Regions from separate parts of the Homo sapiens genome. Here regions 2 and 3 are each linked to region 1. The links come from fine-mapping of genetic effects on gene expression. A gene starts in region 1. Each other region holds a variant in brackets. All regions are shown on one strand. Distances are between the middles of the regions. Region 1 holds the start of ATP2B2 (ATPase plasma membrane Ca2+ transporting 2). Region 2 has its middle 18 kb from the start of ATP2B2-IT1. Region 3 overlaps ATP2B2 (ATPase plasma membrane Ca2+ transporting 2).

Evidence for each region. PIP is the estimated chance that this variant, and not a neighbour inherited with it, causes the effect.
Region 2: its variant is the best candidate, but not a certain one, in a credible set for the expression of ATP2B2 in sun-exposed skin (GTEx, PIP 0.51).
Region 3: its variant is the best candidate, but not a certain one, in a credible set for the expression of ATP2B2 in testis (GTEx, PIP 0.82).

Annotation. Positions count from the first base shown.
Region 1 is chr3:10,504,291-10,507,044 of GRCh38, forward strand. It overlaps ATP2B2 (ATPase plasma membrane Ca2+ transporting 2), which reads right to left and starts at 1,296. Exons shown (of 23, transcript NM_001001331.4): 1 at 1,175-1,296. RefSeq lists enhancers at 1-618, 619-1,285.
Region 2 is chr3:10,551,251-10,554,004 of GRCh38, forward strand. It overlaps a transcript of ATP2B2 not described here. Among named protein-coding and RNA genes, the nearest start is that of ATP2B2-IT1, 18 kb to the right of the region's middle. RefSeq lists a silencer at 2,435-2,729. The variant G/T (reference allele first, on the strand shown) is at 1,244.
Region 3 is chr3:10,390,073-10,392,826 of GRCh38, forward strand. The region is part of intron 5 of ATP2B2 (ATPase plasma membrane Ca2+ transporting 2); the gene reads right to left. Among named protein-coding and RNA genes, the nearest start is that of MIR885, 3.1 kb to the right of the region's middle. RefSeq lists a silencer at 19-219. The variant A/C (reference allele first, on the strand shown) is at 1,561.

The sequences.
Region 1 (2,754 bases):
GGAGAATTTCTCCGGATGGCGCCCGCTGATCCTGGAAATACCCCAAACGTCAGCTCTGCCTCCTCCCAGCGATTCGGAGAGCAATGCAGGAGAGGAGGGAGCCCCTTCCACGCTGGGCTCAGGGCATGCAGCGTCGCACTAAGACCCTCTGCCGGCTGGTCGGGCTTGCCTGCTCACTTACCCTTCTGAAGGTCGAGCCAGGCTGGGCCTCTGCATGGAGGGCCCGAGACCCCCAGGGCCCTTGCCTGATTGGGGCAGGCCAGTCCAGAGCACCCCCCCAACCCCCAACCCCCAACCTGGGTGAGCAGAGGACAGCCGTGGTGTGGAATAGCTACTTGGCTAGAAAGGGGTTGCTGCTGTCCGCAACCCACCCTCAGGGAGTCCTGAGGCCCCCTGCTGCATTTTCCCATCCTGACCCTGCAGGGGGCAGGGAGGAGCCTCAGGTGCCCTATCCCTCAGCTGGAGACCACTGAGGCTGGCCTAGGAAGTGGGCTTCTGGGCAGAGGGTGCCGACTCCACCACCCAGCATGACTGCTGCAAAATGGCCTGGCCACCCGTTCCTGCCACCCTCCTGGCCATGGAGGGGACCCAGGAACACGTCCCTGCCACCACATGACCCGGCTGGCCTGACCCAATGAGTCCCAGCACACAGCTGCCCACCCCACCAAAGGGACGCTTCACAGGGGCCTCCTCCTGCCTCTTTCCTGGGACTCTGACCAGGGTGGGCAACGGGCACCCTCCAGTCCTCTTGGTCTCCCTGGGACCGGCTCAGAGAGAAGAGAACCTTGTCCCCTGCCACCAGCTTGCTGGCCCTTGCATAACATCCTTAGGGGGCATTTGCAGTCCAGAGGCTGCCGGAATCTACCTGAGACCCTGGGCATCCGCTTGTCCGAGGCCCCCCTGTCCTAGTCCCCAGCATCCAGCCGTCCCCCACAACACGCGGACCCTCACACTAGTGTCTCCCTCAGCGGCGGCTCCCAGTGCAGCCTCGGCTGCTGCCAGATAAACAAGCCCTGCTCCCACCCCCCCTCCACGCTGCCACCGCCACCACCATCAGCACTGAGAAAAATCAAATGAAATGAAACAAAATAAAATGGGTGAGGGAGGAAGGGGAGAGTGGAGTGGGGCGCTTTTTATTTTTTATTTTCTCATGCTGGGGGATGCCGGTACTTACTTGGCTATGAAAATCACCACCAATCCTGCACGGTTTCCCGGCGGGCAGCCCCGTAATCGCGGTGCGGCAGCTGGTGCCGCGGCTGAGCCCAGCCAGCGTGCCCGGGCCCCTCTGCAGACTGTACCATCCTGCCCGAGCGGGTGGGGGGCGGGGGGCGGAGGCGCCGGCGCCGGTTCTAGGAGAGCATCTCGCCGGCAAAATGCAATCTCGGGGGAGGCAGAGGCCGCCCCTGCCGCTGCCGGAGGCTGGGGGATGGGGGCGGGAGGAGGGAGGGAGGGAGGGACACAGGGAGGGCCGGTTCTGGAGGGGGCACGGGGGAGGAGAGTGGGGGGCGGGGGGGGTGTGTGGACCGAACCACCACGCTGTTGTTTGCGGTTTTAATTCCTCCCGTGGGATCATGAGGAACCGAAGCTGGCAGAGTCCCAGGAATATGCCCGCTCCCCAGAAGCAGGAGGGAATGTCAAGGGCACGGAGAGGGTAGGGCTGGGCTGTGCTGGAGGGAAGGGGGTCCTGAGAGTGGTGGTGGGGAGAACGGGAGCAGAGAGGGGAGGATTTTGCTCAAATGGCCCCAAGTCGTCCCTTGCTTTCTGGGGGACTTATTTGGTCAGGGGCTCTGGCCCCCCTCTTTGCAGTCAAGGCACCCCCAGACCTGGGGGGCAAAGGGGCAAAGGTCGCAAATGGGGAGAAGTCGACTCAACACATTTTAAACACATCTGTGTTTCCAGGGCCAGTGGAGCTGAGCCCGCAGCAGCTCTCTGCTGCCCTGAAGCGCTACCCCTGCGACCCGCCCTGCCTGTGTGCGACCCCACCTGCCCTCGGGGGGGTGTGGTGGTGGGGGCTGGCTTGGCAGAAGGGCCTGCCTCAAGAAGGTGCCCACCAGCAGGGGTGTCTGCATGTCTGTACACCCACCTAATCTTCAGGACATCTATGATGAGTTGCAGGCCGACTGTGGGCTGACTGACACTTCCACGGGAACCCAGGGACCCCGGGTGAGGAGTCGGTAGGGTTGGAAGCCCCTAGCCAGCTGCTCACCTCTTCCTGCCTAATCTCTGCCAGACTTGCTGCTCTTTCAACTCCAGATGGGTGGGAGGAGAGCCCTAAGAGCAAGGTTAGGAGGTCACCGGGGGCGAGGGGCTTCTCTAGAATTCTGAAGCCTTGGCCTCCACTGCCCTGCCCCCTCCAGGAGGGGTACCCTGCTTGGAGGGAGGGCACTGAAGGTGGAAGGACCTTCAGGACCAGTGTCTCAGGGCACCTGTCAGGGTGGAGGGGTGCATGGGGGACAGGGGCAGGGCTGGAGGCGGCCCCGGGAGGCAGTTCCAGGCAGAAGCTGCCTCTTTCCCCTGCCCCCACCTCCTGCCCACCTCTGAGCTGCCCGCCCGAGCGTCCCGAGCTGCCGCTCCATCCCTGGGCTGGCACAGAATACCAATTTGTCTCGTTAAGCTGAAAGTCTGCACTGCACCAAAATCAGAACCCGGCCGTGCAGAGGGGCCACGGGAGGGAGACAGTTGGGAGCGCCTGAGGTGGGTCTCCCACCAGTAGGCCATGCTGAGACCTCCTTGCTCCTCAGCCCCCAGCCCCAT
Region 2 (2,754 bases), 47 kb after region 1:
AGGAGTGATCAGTGAATTCAGTGGGGGAAAGATGAGAGACGCAGCCTGCAGTGAAGCAGGTAGTATGGCTTTAGGACCTGGCAAGGCAGTGGTGAATGGACGTGCCGATTATCAAGCCCACCATGGGCACAGATGGGGCCAAAGCGGCCAAGCTCAACGTCTCAGATGCGGATCTGTGATCACTGTCAGTGCTACTTGCAAGATACAATCCCTGATGCAGTTCCTTCCTCTGTAACACCCCACTAACACGCATGCATATTCCACAGCCCTGCTTTGGCAATGCAAAGTTTTGTATAAAGAAATATTTTGCTGTAAACATATTTCTATTCTAGGCTAACTCAGATTTAGAGATAGATTTTTCTTTCCTTTTAAGAAATCAAGAGTTCAAACCTTCAGCCCGGCAACTGTACACAATTGCTCACAATTATGTTTCATTCAAACAAGAACACAATGTATCAATCATATTTACCTGTTTTGGTCTGTCTCCAATTCCAAAAGCTACCTTGGTCTGCCAGTAAAGGGGAGTCACATCTGGGAATGTCCTGGCCATGTGACCCCAAGCATGTCTCACTTTCCCCATCTGTTGAAAAGGGGACTCTAGCTTCTTCCTGGGCTGTGGGAAGCAGGACATGAAGTCTAGGCTGGGCCAGCTCCCTAGGGCCCTCAGCAAATGGAAGTTGCGAACATTAACGCTGCTTTTGAACAATGCCAAGGTTGCATAAGAAATGTAGCCATGCCTATCATGGGGCTGGGTTTGGGCTTTCTGTAACACTGATTCCGAACAATGTCAAAAGTTGCATAAGGAACCTCACTGTGCCTATCCTGGGGCCCAGTTTTGGCTTTCTAGAGCTCGCCTGTGGCAGCATTTCTGCAGCCGGAGAGGGAACACCCTTCCCACGGCCGCCGCCTCGGTGCCGGTTGGTGACTCATAGCACTGGCGAGGGGCGTGGGCGGGAAACCACATAGGCATCACCATGGCATCTGACAGATTTGCCCCTGTGGAGCTACTCTGTAAAGAAAAGGGGAAGAGGGGGCCCTTCTCCTCCTGCAAGGTGAGTGGGGCACAGAGGGAACAGCTTTCGTCAGCCGAACCCCCTTGCTGCAACGTGGCTGGAAGCCAACCTTAGAGAAGGTGGCAGCGTCCTGCCTTCCGCCCAAAGTGAGTGCTGGCCTGGCTCCTGGGGTGAGGGAAAAATCCCATCTTGTGGGTGCTGCCCTCCATAGCTCCCTCTCACACAAACAC[G/T]TTCAAAGTCTTCTCACATACTTAACATCAGAAAGGCAATCCAGAACCTCCCATTTGTGAGCAACAGCTATGTGCTGGGTTGGCTCCCCTCAGCACTGCTTTTATGTTATTTGCTTCCTTCCATCCTCAGGATGACTTGTTCTTATCTCCTCTTACAAATGAAGAAACTGAGGCTAGAAGTTGCCCGAGGCCACAGTGCTGCCCTGAGGCAGAGCTGGGGTTCCAACCAAGATGTGTTCCCTGTGCTCAAAAATGGGTCAGGAAATTTACAAATGGGTGTCTGTGGGCATGTGAGAAGCAGGTGAACTGGAGAACATCCAGGAAGTGCAACTGCTGAGGCCACAGACAGCTCAGGGCAGAAACACTCATTTTAGGCAGCTGTCACTTTCCAAAGGACTTTCTATGTGCTGTCTCATTTACTTTCCATAACAGTTCTATGAAGTGGGAGCTAACATCTCCATTTCGAAGGCAAGGAGGCAGAGATTGAATTGCTCCTCAAGGGCATCCAACTGCTCTGTCCTCTATGGCCTCCAGCCTCCAGTTCCCCATCTGTGCAATGGGAATATATTAAAATCACACCTTCAGATGATGTCAGGGTTAAATGAGGGAACATAACAGAAATGCTTTAGAAACTGCAAAATGCCACCGGAATTCTATGGAGTATTATTATTTACTAAAATAGCTTAGTGAAGACAACACAAATAAGTCTGAGAATTGCAAGGTTCTAGATTCAGACCTAGATTTCTGCAGAGTGTTTAAGCGGTGTTCTTTCCCGGACTGGAAGCTCCTGAAAGCAGGGACCACGTCTGGTTTGCCTCAGTTTCCTCAGCGCCCTGTTCCATGCCTGACACAGAGAGGGACCTTGAAAAAGCTAGGTGAAACTATTCAGGATTAATTCAGACTGGGAAAGAGGGTGGAGGGGAAGAACAATGGGATTGAGGGCTGGAAGTGGCCTTTTAGAGGTGGGTGACCAGAAGGTTGATGTTCCAACTCTTGAGAATGAAAACGCCTCTTTTAATAGTCTTGATAAAATGGAACTGTTCTGGGCCAGCAGGGACATACAGTCATACTACTTAAATATTTAGTACTTATTTAGTCTGATCCCCATGTTGTGGGGGAAACTGAGGCCCTCAGAGGATTGCAGAGCTGGGGGGGAAACCCAGGACTCCCTGCCCCTCCATAGGCCTGCTCTTGGAAGAGCCAGAGCAGCAGCTCGGAGTGGGTGGAGCTTGCTTTTAGTGCCTGCAGCTCTCTGGAAGGAACTGGGTGTTATCGAGATAATCCAAAGTTTCTGTTGGGTAAATATCAACACTTCTGGGCCCGTTACTAAGGGCCTGGGTGGTTGCTAAGCGGCCCTATGACCTCATGAGGGGGCCATTGTTTAGCACTCAATAGGCATCCTTGAGTGACATCCCCCAGCTCCCAAATCCCAGGGGCCCCTGGGGTTTTGTGAAAAGAAGCAAGAGATTATAATGAGCAGGAGCGGTACACAGACCCACGTTTGTTTTCTG
Region 3 (2,754 bases), 110 kb before region 1:
TTCTCAGATGGGGGAGTAAGAATTCCACCCTGGCCTGGCTGGACAGTGTCACAGAGGCCTTGACAGCCATGACAGTGACTCTCCGACATGCCATGCCTTGCTTCTGGAACTCACTTCTGCTTTTCAGAGTTCTCTTTTCTGTCCCCTCGAGACTAGGTGCCACTTCTTCCTGTTTTCAGCATAACTTATCTCTCACTGTGTTTTGGTTTGCCTCAGATTTGAAGTCTATGTCAGGAAACTCATTAGAATTGTATCTAAAATAAGGGTTGAGGGGTTCTGGGTCAGACCTAAAGAGCTTGCCTTAAGCAAGGTATCTGTTTTCACTTTTTAAGTGGTATCACCCACCTTGTCCCTTTCCTTGTAGGATCTGAGTGATATCCCGATGTTGTGTGTGTGTGTGCCTGTGTGTGTGTGCGTGCATGCTTTTGTGTGTGTGTGTGTGTGTGTGTGTGCGCTTGCAACAATCTAGCCTCTTGGTCTCTGGGGTCTCAGGATCTCAAAGTGCTTTACAGAGAGACAGACACTCTCCAGTGATTCCTTTCAGGCACGTAAATGCCAGCCTCTCCCTGCACAGATGCAGAAACCAAGTCATGAAGGCTCACAGAGGGGGTGTGCGGAACCCAGATTCTCAGATGGCAAGCTCTTTGGCCATTCCCAGGACAGAAGGACAGTGCTTTTTTTCCCCCTTGGCAGGGCACAGTGGGGACCACAGAATGAGCTCAGACATTGGCTCTAGGCTGAGCAGCCCAGGCCTGGTGGCTTCTCATCACAGGCAGACCCTGGAGCACCCCACCCTGCTCTGTCACCCTGCTGAGGGCCAGTAACAGGGCCTTGTTCATTATAATAACTTGCTGACAAGATGCCTCCGTGGGCACCAGCTCGGCTTGTTAGGGTGCTAGGAGGAGGGGCTGTTACATATCAGCATTAGACAGATAAGAAACTGGGGTCTCATGGCGGGTATCACTGGAGACTCTTCAAAGGAGAGGAAGGAACACTACGCTGCATTCATAGGGCACAGAAAGCAGTAACAGCCACCCAAGCTGACCTCTGTAGAACACCTACTGTGTGCAGGGCACATGCTGCCCTCCACGCTCAATGATCTCATCTAGTCCTCAAACTGGAGGAAACTGAGGCTCAGAGTGGAGGGGTGGACTGCCGAGTCACTCTGCAGGTGAGGGGCAGAGCCTGGACTTGAACTCTCTGCTGTCCCTGAGCCTGTTGTCTTTGTTACCTTCCACTTAGCCTCCAGGGGCAAGGCCCTCACATTCTGGTCTGAGACACATTCTGCTCTGAGTAGAAAGGTTCGCTGGAAATGAAGGCATTGGTTCTCTGGCTTAGGTGGCAACCAAGAGGCTGCTCCCCACCTCCCAACCCAAGACAGGATGGAAAAAGATGCAGGGGGCCAATTTCCACCCACGATAATCAGACTCCCAAATCACCTTCTAATCTAATCACTCCCATCGCAGCAGGGAGCTGGCAGCTCTACACCCACATCCGGAGGCAGGGAGGTGGCAGGAGGACGTCAGGGAGGGGCTTAGGCATAGTGCGCTCCCCGCCCAG[A/C]CCTGGAGATGCCCCAGGGTGTCCTCCAGAGCTGAGCAATAGCCAGGGCAGGGGAGACGGGGCATCTACAATCCCCAGTCCTCCCTCCCTCTGTCCTCCGGTATCCCCAAGCCTCTGCTCTTACCTGTCTCCCTCCAGTTCCAATCCCTTCTTCGAGGGTTTGGAGGGCTCCCTGAGGTCCAAACCACTCAGTCAGTGTCCCCTGGATGAGACCTCTGCCTTCTTGGCCCTGGACACTGAGTCCTGTCTCGTGGCCTCTGCCTTTGGAGTGTGCACAGTTCACTGGGCCTTGGTGTCTACCTCCCTGGCCTTTGCTCACAGTGATCACCTGAATGCCTTTCCCTCACCTCTTGCTCACAACCTCCTCCACAGGATGAATGCCCTTCTCCTTGGGTAGCCCTCCTGACTCCCACTAGGGGACTTCATCTGTCTCCTCTGAATCACCTGAAGTCTCCTCTGGGGGTGCTTCCAGGCCTGGCTCCTCAACCTGACCATGAGCCCCTTGAAGGCAGTGTCTGAGTGGGAGTGTCCTCTGGGCCTCCCCCGCACAGCCTGGTTTGGAGCTGCAACTCCAGCACAATTTTTTGTACTATTTTGAACTTTCCAGGGTGGGTATGTATTACATTTATAATTGGGAATACCAATGTCCCTAATAAATCATCTTTATGTTTTGCAGAGGGTCACATTCATCCCAGCTGTGCCCCCTCCTGCCACACCTCACTGGGCTGTGCCCTGTCCTCTCCCAGGCCCTCCTGCCAGGGGAAGACTCCAAAGGACTGGGGCATTCCCTAGACCGTTCCCCTTCAGCTCCACGAGTCCCCTGCAGAGGGCAATGCTTAACACCATGGCAGAAGCAATTAATGGCAGAGCAACAGACATCCAAGTCAAAGCGCAGTGGGCTAAACCTCTCAAAGGACGACCACAGGGGCAGAGGTGGGAACCTCTTGGGGATGGAGGCCCTGATAGGGCCTTGTGGGACCTCACTGTCCACAGTCCCTTGGGCAGCACTCTGTAGCCCCCACCTCCTCTAACTGCCCACAGAGCCCTTCAGAATACAAGCACGGGGAGGGGTAGAGAGAGAGCCCTGGACCCAGAAGAGGGCACCTGGGACATGGTGTCTAATTCTGATTGCTATGTGACCTTGGGGCCAGCCCCTCTCCTCTCTGGACCTCAGTTTTGTCATCTGTAGAGTGG